Regions from separate parts of the Homo sapiens genome. Here region 1 is linked to region 2. Evidence: fine-mapped expression QTL. A gene starts in region 2. The other region holds a variant in brackets. All regions are shown on one strand. Distances are between the middles of the regions.

Region 1 (8,317 bases), 64 kb after region 2:
CCAAGATCGCACCACTGCACTCCAGCCTGGGTGACACAGCAAGACTCTGTTTCAAAAAAAAAAAAATCATTAACATTGATAAACCCTAGCTAGACTGATCAGGAAAAAAAGAGAGAAATTAGCAAGATCAAAATAGAAAAGGAGATCCTACCTCGTGTTTACAGTGGAGTCCTTTAAACATTAAAGATCCTGCCAGTACTTAAAGGACAAGAGAACACCTATGAGCAATTTTAGGCCAATGTATCTGACAACTTAGGGGAAATGGATACCCTGAAAGACAAATTACCAGAACTGACACAAGAATAATAGAAAACATATACAGCCTTATATCTGTTACACTTAATTTGTAATTAAAAACCTTCCTCAGAACAGCTGTGTCAGATTGCTTCACGGATGAATTCTACCAAATGTTTAAGAAAGGAATGATACCAACTTTGTACAACCTCTTTTAGAAAGAGCTACATATTTTTTAGAAAATCTAGGAGGGAAGAACACTTCTCATTTGATACCAAACTCAATTGATACCCAACTTATTTGATAACTTCTCAACTCACCTTGATACCAAAACCAGACACAGACACTACAAAATTTGAAGTTACAGACTGGTATCTCTCAAGAACATAGACACAACAATCCAAACAAAATATTACTAAGTCAAGCTCAGTACTATATAAAAGAATGATACAGTCATGACCAAGTGGGATTTTTCTCAAGGACACAGGTTGGTCTAACTTTTAATGTCAATCAATGTACTTCATCATATTAGGAGATGAAAGAGAAAACTATATATCTCAATAGATGCAGGAAATTATTTGACAAATTCAACTGGTATTTAAAATTCTTAGTCAACTAAGAGTAGAAGATAATTTCCTCAACCTGATAAAGGACATCCATTAAAAACCTCAGCTACCAGTGTACTCAGTGGTGAAAGACTCCACCTGGAATCCGTACAAGGCAAGGTGTCCATTCAGTACGTATTCCCAGCATTTTCCTGGAGGCCCTAGACAGTGCCAGATGACAAGAAAAGGAAATAAAAGGAAGGAAAGGAAGAAAGAATTAGAGATCACATGATTGTATGCATAGAAAATCCTAAGGAAATTCTACAAAAGAAGCTATAGAACTAACAAGTGAATTCAACTAGATCCCAGGATACAGGGTCAGTATATAGAACCTGTTGTAGCAGTGAACACTTTGAAATGAAAGTGTTACATTAATAGCATCAAAAACATGATAAATTTTTAAATGCGTAAAAGGAACTATAAACATAAATGTAAAAGCTAAAACTATAAACTTTTTTTTTTTTTTTGAGACAGAATCTCACTCTTGCCCAGGCTGGAGTGCAGTGGCACAATCTCGGCTCACTGCAACCTCCGCCTCCCTGGTTCAAGCGATTCTCCTGCCTCAGTCTCCCAAGTAGCTGGGATTACAGGCACTCACCACCATACCCAGCTAATTTTTGTATTCCTAATAGAGACGGGGTTTCACCATGTTGGCCAGGCTGGTCTTGAACTCCTGACCTCTGGTGATCCACCCGCCTTGGGCTCCCAAAGTGCTGGATTACAGGCGCGAGCCACCATGCCCGTCCCTAACTATAAACTTCTAAAAGAAAGAAATACAAAAGCATATGAGAAAATATTCATGAGAGCTGGAATACAATGGTTTTGTACTTGGAAAAATATTATATTGGTTCTCTATTTTTCATACACTGGAATTAAATCCAGGTGGATTAAAGACCTAAATGTTTCTTTAAAAAAAAACTATACAGGGCCGGGCACATGGCTCATGCCTATAATCCCAGCACTTTGGGAGGCCAAGACAGGAGTTTTGTTTGAGCCCAGCCTGTGCAGCATAGAGAGACCCCCAACTCTACAAAAATAAACTAAAATTAACCAGGCGTAGTGGCATGCACCTGTAGTCCCAGCTACTCAGGAGGCTAGGGTGGGAAGATCACTTGAAACCGGAGTTCAAAGCTGCAGTGAACTGTGATTGCACCGCTGCATTCCAGCTTGGGGGACAGGGTGAGACCCTGTCTCAAAAAAAAACAACCAAAAAAAACTATATAATTTTGTGTGGAAAATATAGGTAAATATATTTTTGACTTTGGGGTAGTGAAAGACTCCTTAAGCCACAAAAAGAATTTAAAAAGAAATGATGAACATACTTGACCATATGAAAATTAGAACCTAAATCCATAAACCTTAAGAAAGTGAAATCTAAACTACAAACTGGGAGAAGAGATAAATAGTCTCAAGACTACATGAAGAACTCTGATAAATCAATGAGAAAACAACCTAATAGGAAAATAGAAAAAAAAACATGCATAGGCATTTCATGGAAGAAGAGATACAAAAGGCCAACAAACATAAAAAGAAATATTCTATTTCATTAGTAATCAGGGAAATGCAAATCAAAAGTGCAATGAGGTACATTCAGCTGGTAAATTTTCAGAAGTCTGAAAAGCCTATACCGGTGAGAATGTGGATCAACAAGATTTCTTATGCATTGCTGGCAAGAGTATAAATTGCTAGAAGCACTTTGAAAACAATGTGGCACTCTGCCTGTTGAGCAATCTGCCCACTGTTGCTCATTTACGTCAACTGTGTTCCAGCAATTGCACTTCTGGGTATAAACCTAAGAAAAACTTCACGTCTGCACCAGGAGATGGGAAAGAATATACACAGCAACATTTTTTGTAAAAGCAAAAAGTCTAGGCTGGGCGTAGACTCATGCCTGTAATCCCAGCACTTTGGGAGGCTGAGGCAGGCGGATCACGAAGTCAGGAGTTCGAGACCAGCCTGGCCAACATAGTGAAACCCCATCTCTACTAAAAATACAAAAATTAGTCGGGCATGGTGGTGGGCGCCTTTAGTCCCAGCTACTCGGGAGGCGGAGGTTGTGGTGAGCCAAGATCATGCCACTGCACTCCAGCCTGGGCAACGAGCGAAACTCCATCCCCCCAAAAAAAAAAAAAGAAAAAAAGAAAACAAAAAAAGGAAAAAGTCTAGAACCAACCCAAAGACCCAGCCAGTGAGAATGGGTGAAGTATGATATAACCACACTGTGTAATGTTATTCAGCAGTGAAAATCTATGAACCACAGTGACCTACAGTGTGGAGTTCTCTTCTTCATATAATGCTGAGAGAAGACAATATATATCATGATGTACTATGAATAAAGTTCATAAACAACAAAAACATTCACTATTGTTTAGGCAATTTATAAAATTTTTAAGCTAATTTTAATTACATATTTTACTGCCAGAAAACCTAGTTTTTAAAGACAAGGAAATTATAAACCCAGAGATTCTTATCGCAAGGGAAGAGAAGGGTACACGGTCGGATGAGCCCATTCAGCATTCTGGCTGCCGGGGTGGCTGCTAGTCCCAGATGTCACTAAGTCATTACCATTTATTTACTTTTTAAGCATGAAATTAAACTTTAAAAAAATAAATATTTAAATTCAGGAGCACAACTCCCGCTTGAAAAGAAAGCTGTGGTGAATCATTTAAAACCAAGATTTGTCCCAGATGGACTGGTTTCACAGGTGACTATTATACATTGAAATGGCAAGATGGGACATGAGACATTTTCTGTCAAACCCCTGAGGCCTTTGTCCTGTCGGCCTGAACCACTGGAATTAAGTCCCACAGCGTCTTCTGGGAGCCCTGGGGTGGTTTCAAGCCCGCCCTGCTGCTTCACAGACACAGCCAGGCACTGAGCCCCAGGCCCACTGCCCTGCCCCGACTCCAAGGATATCCAGCCCTGGTCTCTGGCCTTTCCAACCACTGATGATGTATCATCGAATTCTGTCTGGCCCCTCAGGACTAGTTTATGTGCATCTTAATTTGGCTTAATCGTGGCCACATTGCTTTATTCTTGGGCTCTCTCCTCTCAGAAATCGATGAGTGCCGGTCTCAGCCGTGCCTGCATGGGGGCTCTTGTCAGGACCGCGTTGCTGGGTACCTGTGCCTCTGCAGCACAGGCTATGAGGGCGCCCACTGTGAGCTGGGTAAGAGGGGCCCTGGCCCCGCTGGGGTGACAGCTGCAGCACACTGGCCATGTGCCTGAGGCACTGGGTCCCCCGGACAGGTCTCTGTCTGGATGGCCAGGGTGGCCACTGCATGCTTTCTCGGGCCCCTGCCAGCTCTGACATCCAAGACAAAGATTTTACAAATATCCCTTCCTGCACCTCCCCAGGGGAGACTGAGAGCCCAGCTGAGAAATGCTGGCCTGGCTTCAGGGCGCAGAGAAGGTGGGCGTCGGAGAGGGCAGGTCACAGTCTCTGACACCTGGT[C/G]GGTGCTTCCAGCCAGTGGAGGGAGGGGAGGCCTGCCCCATGAGCCCTGCACACTCTTGTACCTCGCTAGGGCTCTAAGCCTGAGAAACGCAGGCTCCAGGGAGGGCAAGGCCCAGGGAGCCGTGCCCAGTCGTGGCCCTGGGGAGCCTCCCATTGCGGAGTGGCCTGGAGGAAGGCATGGCCTGGAGGTGGGGCTTTGCCAGCAGGCAGTGGAGGTGGCACGCCTCCCGAGGAGGGGTGGGTTTGGGGCTGATGGAAGAAAAAGCACATGTCCTGAGTAGTTGCTCCCAGCTGGGAAAGGGGTAACTGAAGCCCCAGGAAATGCACGGAATCCTGGGGGCATGTGGGCGCCTCAGACTTGAGCCAGCAACACCCTTGACACCCCTTCTCTGTGCAGAGAGGGATGAGTGCCGAGCTCACCCGTGCAGAAATGGAGGGTCCTGCAGGAACCTCCCAGGGGCCTATGTCTGCCGGTGCCCTGCAGGCTTCGTTGGAGTCCACTGTGAGACAGGTAGGGGCTCCCTCCAGTGGGCCCCACATGCAGAGCCTGGGCCTCTGGAAGATCAGAGAGGAGGTGGGGCATCCCCACATTCCCTGCTGGGCAGGCCACCTGGGGAGAGGGACCCCCAGGGCTGCGGCCACCTTGGGAGGGAGGGGTGGAGGTGAGGGTGCTGGGGAGGGCTGAGGGGCGGGACCTGCCCACTGCCCCTCTCTCCTGGCCTCCGCCCCTAGACTCCTCCTTTCCCTTCTTCCCGCTGTCCTCTCCTCCCTCCCCCAGACTCCCCCCTTGCAGCTTGGGCCCACTCTCTGGGTGTTCTCCAGAGGTGGACGCCTGCGACTCCAGCCCCTGCCAGCATGGAGGCCGGTGTGAGAGCGGCGGCGGGGCCTACCTGTGCGTCTGCCCAGAGAGCTTCTTCGGCTACCACTGCGAGACAGGTAGGGCGGCAGGCCTGCCTGCTCCCCGCCCTCTGCCCGCCTGCTCCCCGCCCTCTGCCCGCCTGCTGCCCGCCCTCTGCCCGCCTGCTCCCCGCCCTCTGCCCGCCTGCTCCCCGCCCTCTGCCCGCCGCCTTGGAAGTCCCCTTCTCAGGCCAGTGGCCCTCCGCCTGTCTCCCTTGGTCCCACAATGGTGCCTTCTAAACCTCCCCATCTCCTGCGCTCACCCCCCAGACACCCCTCTTCACCCGAGGACACACCCAGGGGTGGGGCCTCACGTCCACACATAGGCCCTGCTGCCCTTGGACAGGCCAAGTTTCTTGCACACCCAGGTCTGGCCCCTGGCTGTCCTTCCATCTGGAACATTCTCCCTAATCAGCCCCCAGTGGGATACCTCCTGATGAGGCTTCCCTGACCACTGACCTCCCCTCCTCAAGCAGGACTGTCACTGGGGTGGTGGCCTGTCCTGTCCTGATCCAGTGTCTCCTCCCCTCAGCCAGTCCGGCTGGTGGCACTCCGCTGTGGAGGGTGGAGGAGCTGCTGGGTTGGGCCCCGCAGGGCAGTGGAGGTGGCAGAACCGAAGGGAGGCAGTAGCTGTCCTGTGCCCCCCGCCCCTCCACACCCACGCAGGAGGGACCCAGTGCCCCAGGAGCAAGGGCGGGGCTGGAGCAGGGACCCCTGGCCACGCCCCAACATACACTGCCACTTTTTCTCCCCTCAGTGAGTGACCCCTGCTTCTCCAGCCCCTGTGGGGGCCGTGGCTATTGCCTGGCCAGCAACGGCTCCCACAGCTGCACCTGCAAAGTGGGCTACACGGGCGAGGACTGCGCCAAAGGTGGGTGGCGAGGGCGCCTCCAGTGAGGGAGCCACGAGGGGGTCCCCTCTCCCTAGAGGGCCCAACGGTCTCCAAGGGCAGAGCGTCTGGCCGCTGCTTGCCCAGGCCCCTTCCCTGAGGAACAGGGAGGGGATAAAATCCCCCGGTGGGCTTGAAACACGGTCACACATTCAAAAGTGTGACCCTCCTGGAGGTACGTGGCCAGGGACAAAGAAGGACTCTGCCAGCGATGGCTGTGTCAGGCCCAAGAGCCAGACCCGGCTGAGCCGCCGACGGGAGCCAGGCATGCATAGCTAACGGCTGACCAGTCCCCTCCCCTTGTTTTGACCCAAACCCTGAAGAGCTCTTCCCACCGACGGCCCTCAAGATGGAGAGAGTGGAGGAGAGTGGGGTCTCTATCTCCTGGAACCCGCCCAATGGTCCAGCCGCCAGGCAGATGCTTGATGGCTACGCGGTCACCTACGTCTCCTCCGACGGCTCCTACCGCCGCACAGACTTTGTGGACAGGACCCGCTCCTCGCACCAGCTCCAGGCCCTGGCGGCCGGCAGGGCCTACAACATCTCCGTCTTCTCAGTGAAGCGAAACAGTAACAACAAGAATGACATCAGCAGGCCTGCCGTGCTGCTGGCCCGCACGCGTGAGTGTCCCCGAGCCTGGCCGTCCCTGCCCAGCCCCTGCCCCTCGAGGGCAGCGCTGGCCCCGGCACCTGCAGGGCGGCTGTCATGCCGTCCACCCTCCTAGTTCTTGCAGCAGCAAGACAGACAGCTGAGCTGGGGGTTGGAGGCACCGCCCTGCTGGAGACAGAGCTGTGTGGGAGTGGCCTTGGGTCCACAAGATACAGGCATGGGATTGGGGCGCATAGAATCGAGCCAAGAGTGGGAGCAGCACAACCCCCAGGCATGGAGCTAGGAAGTGGGACTGGGGAGGAATGGGGGCTTCCCAAAAGGGTCCCTAGAAGGAGCCAGTGTGGGAGACAGGGGCCGCGGGGGTGGGCTTGGGGGGGCTGGGACTCTGGGGTGCTCTGAAGGCCTGGGGAGAGTTTGAAAGAGGCACCTGCTCACAGGGATATGTAGGCGCTGAGGTGTGCTAAGGGGAGGCATCGGTGGCTCAATCGGGAAGAGCCGTGGGGCAGGCCCTAGATGGAATGACAGACCCAGAGCCTCCACCTGGAGCTGGCACTGAAAGCTGTGACCAGATGTGACCCCTGAAGAGGGGGTCCTAGGAGGAGCCTCCTCAGAGCCTGAGCCACCAAGATTGCAGGGGAGGCCCGGGTTGTGCACAGCCTGTGGGGTTGTTGCCGTGTCGGGGAGCAGAAGATGCTGAGCGCTCTAGGGAAGGCGTCAGGGCTTAGCGGGCTTGTGTGCTGCTGGGAGGGATTCTGGGAAGGAGAAAGGAGCCCTAGAACATGGCAGTGGACGGACAGGGGCAGGGCCGGAAGAAAGCAGAGGGCTGGCCTTCCACGGAGCCCGGCCGCATCAGCTAGAGCACAGGGGATCTCGGAACAGGCTGGGCAGGAACCAAGTGGGGTGCAGGGCCATGGGGCCATGGGACTCTCACCCAACATGCCTGTGGCCTCCAGACACAGGAGCAAGAATGGGGAAGGGGTGCTAGAGGCTCGAGGAAAGAGGAAAAGGTGCTGAGAGCACAGACTGCTGCGAAGTGGCGTGATGGATGGATGGGTGGGTGGGTGGCCAGGGCTTCAGGGAGGCCTAAGCATCCAGCAGGGCCCTGCGGGGCGGCCACGTGAGTTTGGTGAAACCTATGGGTAGCATGGCGGGTAGGTGGGGAGGAGCTCGGCGGTTCTCACAGGAGGAAAGCCTCCTGGCCACACCTGGGCCCTAGCTTGATGCCAATGCCAAGGGCATTGAGGGACAGGAGAAGGCATTCAAGGCAGCTTGAGCCCACCCAGAGGCCCACAAGGGCCTGTCCTGCAGGAGTTGACCACCAAGGGGCTGGAGTTCCCAACACAGCAAGGACACAGAGCACACCTCGGCCAGTGGAGAGCCTGGGCGCATGTGCGGGTGGCACTGAGCAGGTGTCAGCAGGAGCTGCCAGGGGCTGAGTAGGGGTGGCTCGCCTGGGCTGTTTTAGGAAGAAGCACCTGCAAGGCCGCCCCATGTGAGATCTGCCCTCGGAAGGTATCTGGAGTGAAGACAGAGCCCGCCCTGCCCGCTGCAGAGTTGGGGCTCCAGCCAGCCATGGTGGGTGGAAGGGACCGCTGTCCACAGACCGGGGTGCTGAGTTGCCGGGAGCTG
Region 2 (8,317 bases):
GTCTGAGACAGAACACAAAATCCCTTCGGATTCCTGCCACCCTTGAGGCTCGCCGAGGAATGTGGGGCACGCAGGGGCTGTTGGAGGGTCCCATCCAGCCTCTGGCCAGGAAGCTCCGACGCTCTGACAGGCCCTCAGGTGCCTGGGTCCGGGGGCAGCACCCTTTGCAGGCATCCAGGGGTTGCAGACCAACACAGGGAGGGGACAAATGGGAGAGGAAGGCCCCCTGGGGAGGGGGCACTGGAGGAGGGGCCATGTTGAACGCAGACGGCGGCACCCAAGGACAGGCCAGCCCTCTGAAGCACCCCAGGTTGAGGGAAGCACAAGCTTTGGTTGGCTGAAGCCGGGGCAGGAAGCCGGCCAGCTGGAACCAAGGGCATTGTTTATCTGGGCTTCCAAAACATTCATACTTTTCAAATTAATTGCAAAAAATGTTAGCAGGGAAACATAGAAAGGAGAATGTAACCACCACCATAATCTGTGACCTGCAGAGCCCCGAGGTGACACCCAACTCTCCCTTTTTCTAGCACACGTGTGCTTAGGACGGTTGAGGCCATAGCGTGGATGCTACTCAGAGTACTATTTTTTAAAACTTTTGCTTGACACAATACCGTTAGAGTTTTCCCGAATCACTAAAAACGTCTCAGAGCATGGTTTTTTTGCTGCGGAAGCTCCGGGGCATCGGAGGACCCTGGGCCTGAGTGTCCCTCCACTGCTGGCTGTCCCTGCCATCCTGGAGCCCACAGAGAATGGGGCTCTGTCCTGTCTTGGGCACTCAGGAGATGGACAAGGCTCTCAACGGGAGGCAGGGTCTCGTCATCCCCAGGACAGGGAGAGCCGATGCCTGAGCCCACGCAGCAGTGAACATCCTGGGAAGGAAGTGTTGAACCCCAGTCCCATCGTTTCCCTAAGAGCAACCACAGAAGTCCCGTCATGGGAGTCAATGTGTGTGCGGCTCCGTGTGCATGAGAAGAGGAGGTACAGGGCAGGCTGCATGGCCCCCACACTCCCTCAGGGCCAACTGCACCAAGACCCCAACCAGCCACACAGGACAGTGACCAGGTGAGCAGGTGGAGCGGCCCTTGGTCCCTGTGACCTCCTGGCCTCATTCCGGAGCATGTGGAGGTTTACTTGGGATCAGCGCTTCTGGGGCAGGGGACCTGCACTCCACCTGCCACTTCTGGGAGAGAAGGAGAGAAAGTTAGGGTGGGCTACAGCCAGCCAGCCCCTGCCCCTGGCAGCTCAGGCCTGAACCCCCAGGATCTTCCACCCTGTGAAGACCAAACAGGCCCAGCCAACCAGGTGCAGGTTGGGGAGGGCACCCCCACCTTGGCCTGCGTGGAGCCCCGAGTCCTGGGGCATCCTGAGGGCAGCTCCCGGGGCACCCCATCTAAATTGCACACACGCTCAGGCCCTAAATTAAAATGTCACAGGCCGGTTGGGGAGGCTCGGGTTTCCTGGCCACAGAACATGAGCCTGCTTGATAAAACAATTTTGGTTTTGATAAATGTGGATTTTCTGTGGCAGAGACAAAGGCGCCCTTGAGTCCAGAGGGGAGCCTAAAACAGCACATTGCTGAAAAGTATTTCCTGATAATATTTTTAGCACCTGAGAAAAACATTTTTTTTTCTCTTTTTTGCCTGCAGAGTTGTGTTGTTTTTTTTTTGTTTTTTTTTTTTTTAATGAAATGTAATGCCCAGCAGCAGCGGGGCCTTTTGTTAACCCCCAGCTCCCCGGGCCCGGCTGAAAATCTGCACAGGGTGCAGGCCGAGGCTGGTCAGCAGGGTACAGGCCCGAGGAAGTGTGGCCTCTCTGGGCCATGAGCAGGGTCTGGCCCACTGCCAGCCACGCCCCAGGCCCATGAGCTCTGACTCTCTGGGACGAGGACGGGCCTGAGCGTTTCCAGCACTGCTCAGCGACCCCCGTGAGGCCCACCAGCCCACCCGCCTGAAGAAACAGGCCTCCACTCGGTGCAGCCACTGAGTGCCACTGTGTGCCCCAAGGTGCCCTGGGCGGCCCTGCCCCCAAGTTGACCCAAACCCAGCCCAGAAATGGGTTGTTACCCAGGTCCCTGTCTTGTGTGCTCAAGAGAAGGTCAGCAGTGGGGAGAAGGGCGCCTGGCCTGGGCAGCTGGCTGGGAGGCAGCACCCCAGGCTGGGCTCTGAGAGCAGAGCAGGAGCATGTGGTGGGAAGTGGATGGGTAGTAGGGACAGGGCAGGAGGTGGGCCAGCCCTAGTGGGGGTCAAAGCCTCACGTCCCCATGACAACACCTCTTCAGCGGAGAAATCCTGCCCTGGGGTTGGCACTGCCGCCTCCCACCTTCGCAAACTCACCGGAGGGGCCTTCCAGCCAGGCCCCAAATGCACTGAAAAGAGGGTAGAGGGCTGCCAGGTTTTTCTAGAAAAAAGACAAATAGAAAAGCGTTCTCCCTGATTCCCGCCACGGTGACGCCTGGCAGCTCTGTTCCCAACGCTGCTACATGGGGCCTTGTCCTGACTCCACGGCCTGTGCCAGCCAGAGGTGGGAGCAGCCCTCCCTGACCAGGGAGGCCAGGGCTGGGCTGAGGAAGGGGTTAAAGCATGTTCTTGAGGCCCCACGTATGGGCATATGCTGCCTCCGTGCATGTGAATAAGTATGCATGTGTGCGTGGACGTGTGTGCATGTGCGTGGAGACATGTCTCTCCTTGCCAGGCTCTCACCGAGAGCCGGCCTCAAGTAGGGATTCTACAGTTCCACGCCCTCTCTGGTGCCTCCCTCCAAAGACAGGAGGCCTTGACCTTTCTGGCCCTGGAACCATGGCTGTGCTGCTGTCCTGGAGCTCTGAAAGCTGGGACGGTGACCTAAGGGCTAACTGCGGGACAGAGCCCTTCCCCTCCCAGGCCCAGTTTGCCTCTCTGCAAACAGAATTGCCACCCCATGCAGGGTGGGAGAGGCGCCAGGGGCAAGCTTTCAGGAGGTGCCAGTGCAGGGTCAGCTCCTCCTTAACAATTCTGCACCCGGCCCTGACACCAAGTCTAAAGGGTCATGAACCTCTGAGTGAAAACACCAAGTGCAGGATCTGTGAGAACCGGCAACACCCAGTCACACGCAGAGAACCCTCCGCTGCTTCTTAAAAATAACATTGACTGTGCCTGGCTCTCACTGAAAAACAACACGTGCTCACTTGAGATATTTCAGAAGATACAAACGCAAAGACAAACAAAAAACCACCCAGCACCTCAGTGGTAGATGCAGTTACCATCAGCCCGGCCTTTCCTGCTTGTCTTCGAGGGGTGCACTCTTATCTTTGGGGGCCCCAGTGTGGCACGCAGCCAACACCACCCAACACCAGGATCTAAGAGAAGAGACCACGGTGGGCCGGGTGAGTTCCAGGAATCAGACCCTGCCATGGGCCTGGGGACATAGAGGTGGTCCCGGCTGAGGCCCTGAGGAAGGACAGACAGGCAGCCCAGGCCAGCAGCCCAAGAGACAGGGGGCAGGGCTGGCAGGCCACAGGGTGGGGACCCTGAATTCAAATACTGGGACTCAGAGTCCTGCCCCCACCTGCCAAGGCCGGTGTCATGCACGCACTTGCCCCCAGGGCCTGAGTGGGTCAGTCTTCCCCACGGAGGGTTTGCTTTACCCAGGGGTCGCCCCGAGGTCCCGAGCCTCCCAGGAATTTCTCCTGATGCGGCCACGCAGATGCAAACACTTTGTTCCATGCCTCCTAGTCTCCGGCCCGGGCTCTTCCTCACACAGACCCAGGCAGGGAGTGGGCTCCGGGGTTAGTCTGCCCCTGTGGCTGGAAGCCTGGCGTCCCCATGCTCAGGGCTGGGAAGGGGGCAGCACGGAACGGGTTCATTCAGGCACTGCCTGGCCAGGGTCCCCTCCCGCCCCCCGCGTGATGACACGCCTTCAGGGCGGGCCCAGCGTCTCAGGCCTTAGGGACACAGGTCTGTCCCAGGACGGCACTGAGGGCCCAGGCGCCTCCACCAGGGTAGGGACCCAGGGCGGAGCATGGCCCCACCACAGGGCGCGCGCCCGCAGAGCCCTCACCTTGCCTGTGCCCACGCCAGGGGACTGAGCTCCCCGCGCGCCCGCGCCCTCCCACGGGGCCTGGCGCTTTAAGAGACGCCCGATTTGCATGGCCCCGCCCCCCCGAGTGACCGCCGGGCTGGATATTTAAATCGTGGCCCCAGGGGCGGGGCTGGCCCCGAACGCGGTCCCGCCCGGCGCTTTCCTCTGCGGAGCTGCGGCGAGAGCGCGGCCCGGCCGAACGGGCGCGGGACGCGGAGCCCCCGACGGCGCGGCCAGCGGGCGCGCCCGCGCTCCCCGCACCCCGCCTGGCCCTGCCGGCCACCCCCGCGCGCAGCCTAGTCCCCCAGCGCCCTGCTCCGCCAGCGCCCCGTCCCGCCCGCACACCTCCGCGATGCGGCACGGCGTCGCCTGGGCGCTGCTGGTGGCCGCGGCCCTGGGGCTTGGGGCGCGCGGGGTGCGCGGCGCGGTGGCCCTTGCCGACTTCTACCCGTTCGGCGCCGAGCGCGGCGACGCCGTCACCCCCAAGCAGGACGACGGCGGCTCGGGGCTGCGGCCGCTCTCGGTGCCCTTCCCGTTCTTCGGTGCCGAGCACTCCGGACTCTACGTGAGTAACCCCCGGGCTCGCGGGGCGCCCGGGAGGGGAGGGAGCTGCGCCCCGGCCGCTGCCCGCCGGGCCCGGACTCCCGCCGCCGCCGCCAGCCACTTGGCACCGGGGCGGCCCGAGGTGGAATGAGGACAGCGCTTCCTCCTCGGCGGCCAAGGCCGGACAGCGGCCCGCGGGAGAGGCGCGCGGGCGGGGCGGGGGCGGCAGCCGCCGGGCACCGAGGCGGGGGCGAGTGGAGCGCGGCGCCCCGGCCCCTGCCAGACCTGCCGAGCGCGTCTTCCCGGCGCCTGATTCCCAGGGGAGAGCAGGGGTCCTGGTACTGCCCTGGTTTTCACACATGGCAATGTGGCCGTGGGCACGGGCTTCCCGGGCCTCAGTTTCCCAAGTGGGGCGCCGGGCCTGCGAAGGTTGCAGCCCCTCCTTGGGCCATTTCAGCCCCGCCCCCCGTGGACGCCAGTGCGGCCCAGAGCCAGGAGGCTGGACCCCTTGCCCAGGCGCTCAGGGCAGGGCCTGCTTCTTCGCTGACCCTCCTAGGCGGGCTAGCAACAGGCTTGCCCCTCCCTGCCGTCCTCTCCGCAGTCTGGGGGCTGGCCGCTCAGGCTCAGACTCTCCAAACAGGACTCCCAGTGGGACTCCTGGGGCCAGGGACTCATGACAGCAGGCTCAGCTCAGCTGAAGGAACAGGCCCGAGTGCCGGTTCTGTCTCCATGGCTCCCAGAGTGTGACCCCAGGCCAAGCCCTTATGGCAGCCCAGGGAATGAAATGCACCTGGTAACTGCATGGAGCACTCGCCCTGAGTAGGCCACGGTGCACTGGTACCTGGTGGTTCCCTGAAACACCCCAGATCATATCTAGAAAACTGCTGGGCCAGCCTCAAGTAGAGTCCCCTCCAGCTCCGTCACCACGGCCACCTCCACCATCAGCCCTCTCATACCCTCGCCCACCTCCAGCCTCAACCCACTGCCAGCCACATCGCCTCTGCCATCTGTGCTGCCCGGAGTAACACCACCTGTACTGCCAACTCCTCCGTCAACACCACCTCCTTCAACCCCACCACCAGCAGCACTGCCTCCACCACCACCTTCCCCATGGTCCCCAGCTTCCCGTCGTCACCATCCACATCCTCTGCATGGTTGTCATCATCCCTCCCCACCTCCATCCACAGGGCCTCCTCCACCACATGCCCTCTAGTGCGCCTCCCACCCCACAACTGCCAACACCATCCACAGCGCCCACTGCGTTTTCCACACCTGCTCAGGAAGGCCTCCCCACCTCGGTGGCAGCACTGGGTGACCTGACTGGTGGGAGGGGCAGCCATGCTGTCGGTGCTACCCCCTGAAAGTCCCTCTGGACCGGGACTTGGACAGAGGAACGGGACTGACTCCTGGAAGTACGAAGTGGGTAGGACAGAATGGTGCTCAGCGTTGGCCCGAGCTGGAGGAGGCCTGTCCACTTGAGGTATGGGACACTCACATTGGCACCATCCGAACAGAACTCAAGAGGCTCCTTAAGCATTTGGGCCAGGCTCAGCTTTCCCACTCACAGTCACAGGTGAAAATATTATTAAAATGGTTAACCCACTTAACAGCCTCACCAAAAACATCTGCCCTTGCCAGAGCAACTAGGGGAAACAGCTCTAACGTGGGAAGATCTGCTAGGAGAACTAGGGTTTCGTCAGAAATGAACCTTCTGGCTGCTAACAAAACATTTATCTCCATCGGAGCTTTTTCCTGAAACAAAGATATTATTTGAAAACCATTTGCCGATGTGGACACAGTGCCTGCAGTGCACTTCACCTTTCTGTTTGCTCAGCAGGAGGCTTGAGGCTGCGTTGCCCAGGACACCTTGCCTGAAGTAACTGTGCGGACTCTGTGGTCAAGCAGGGAGAGAGAAAGGGGTGCTTGGCAGCAGGTTAGGGCTGAAGCCAGGTGGAAAGAAGGGAGGCATTTGTTCTGAAGGAAGTGGACCTGCCTGGGGCCTCCCACGCCCACCCAGGCCGAGCGGACCCTCTTCTGAGGCCCCTGGCTCTGGCCCTTGTCCAGCTCCAGTCTATAGGGGCCTCGTGTCTGCTGGCCCTGGACTCAGACTCCCATGTCAGGCCCAGCCAGGACCCTCCAGCCCCCATCCCACTGCAGTGACCTCTGCGCTCCTCCGCCCCCAGCCTGTCGCTTGACCAAGAGTAGGCTTGTTGTCTGAATGAATGAATGTGCCTCCCTCTGACACTGCCTGCAAGTCACAGGTAGAAATTAGAAGTGCTCTTGCATGAGATGGGTGCTTCTTCTGTCTTCATCAGAAATAGCACATGGATTACTGCCCTAGCAAGACAGCTCTGCCACACATGGAGTGGCCCCCTTTCCAGAAGGGACCCATTGTTTTGCTTCTTTCTCATGTCATAGTAGCTGTATGTGTGTGGTAAGTCGTAAGGCTCTGAAAAGTGTTGAAAGTGCATTTTATTGCTAAGGTTCTACACACAGACAAAGATAATGCAGCCGAGGAGCGTGGCGCGCCGAGGAGTGTGGCGTGCTGAGGAGTGTGGCATGCTGCCGCTATCCTGCCATGCAGGAACTGCCAGTGTCTGCATTAAGACGGAGCTTGCCGCGGTCTGTGGGGCTTATGCAGGTGGAGTGGTTTCCTAGGGGCAGGTGCAGGGAATGAGAGACGAAATCTTCCTGGTGCCCCCTACACTGAAGCTCCTGGCTCCAAGCACTGCCCCCATCCACAGCATGGTCTCTGGGCCATGGGAGGATCTCAGTTTCTTTGGCATCAGGACCCCCGACAGAGCCCTGAGCAGAGGCAGGGAGGATTTGAGGGTCAAGAGTGGGTGGTGCCCTGCAGAGCCCGCAGGCAAGAAGGAGGAATGTGGACAGTCAGACTGACCCTCGCTGGTGCTGGCTAAACCCCCACTCTGTGCCCTGAGGCTTCGTGCCACACCGCAAGTCTGCTGGCTCTGGCTCTGCACAACATTACCATCCAGGCACAGTCCCGGCCCTACCCCTCCCAGAACACGGAGCCCAGGGCAGCTGCTCTGGTGTGGGAGTTCACATGCAGCCTGTGACCTTTGCCTGGTCATTTCCTCCCTGAGCCTCTGTCTCCCCATCTGTGTGGTGAAGCTCCCCCATCAGGTCATACCTGTGACACACCCCATCACTGTCACGGTTGTGTGGTCGCCAGCTCCAAGCCATCTGGAAAATCCACCCTGACCCACAGGGACTGTCTCAGTGGGACCGAGGCCTGCGCATGAGTGGATCTGGGAGCAGACATGTGGGGAGAAATCACTGCCATCTCTGCTCTCTTCTGAGCTCATGGAACACCCCAGCAAATGCAGGAGCCCCTTGGCTGGGAGGAGGGTCCTGGGCTTCCCCTTGGCTGCCCTATTCACTGAGGTTCCCGGGCTGGCCCACCCCCTGCTATGGGCTTGGCCAAGGTGGTCCTGCCCCTCATCAGCATGCCCTTCTTGCTGCTGCCTGGGTGTGACGGAAGCAGATGGAAGGGGATCCTGGGGAAGTGGAATGGGGCTGGAGTCGAGGAGGATGCTGGAGTGAGAGAGCCTGATGACTCCAGGTCAAGGCCATGAGCCCAGGACAGCTGTGATCTGCCTGGACCTCACAGGCAGCCCCTGAGAGGATGGAGCAGGACGTCATGCCCAGTGCAGATGAGGAAACCGAGGCTCAGAATGCAGATTCAGGGGCCTTCAGA

Evidence for each region.
Region 1: its variant is fine-mapped to the expression of SNED1 in tibial nerve (GTEx, PIP above 0.99). The same link has a PIP of 0.9 or more in breast and nucleus accumbens.

What each region holds. Positions count from the first base shown.
Region 1 is chr2:241,058,897-241,067,213 of GRCh38, forward strand. It overlaps SNED1 (sushi, nidogen and EGF like domains 1), which reads left to right. Exons shown (of 32, transcript NM_001080437.3): 17 at 3,895-4,008; 18 at 4,691-4,804; 19 at 5,116-5,229; 20 at 5,948-6,061; 21 at 6,403-6,699. It overlaps SNED1-AS1 (SNED1 antisense RNA 1), which reads right to left and starts at 5,222. Exons shown (of 3, transcript NR_187212.1): 1 at 5,184-5,222. It also overlaps a transcript of MTERF4 not described here. RefSeq lists a silencer at 5,171-5,330. The variant C/G (reference allele first, on the strand shown) is at 4,294.
Region 2 is chr2:240,994,430-241,002,746 of GRCh38, forward strand. SNED1 (sushi, nidogen and EGF like domains 1) reads left to right here and starts at 4,189. Exons shown (of 32, transcript NM_001080437.3): 1 at 4,189-4,621. The coding sequence starts at 4,409. RefSeq lists a silencer at 3,821-4,240.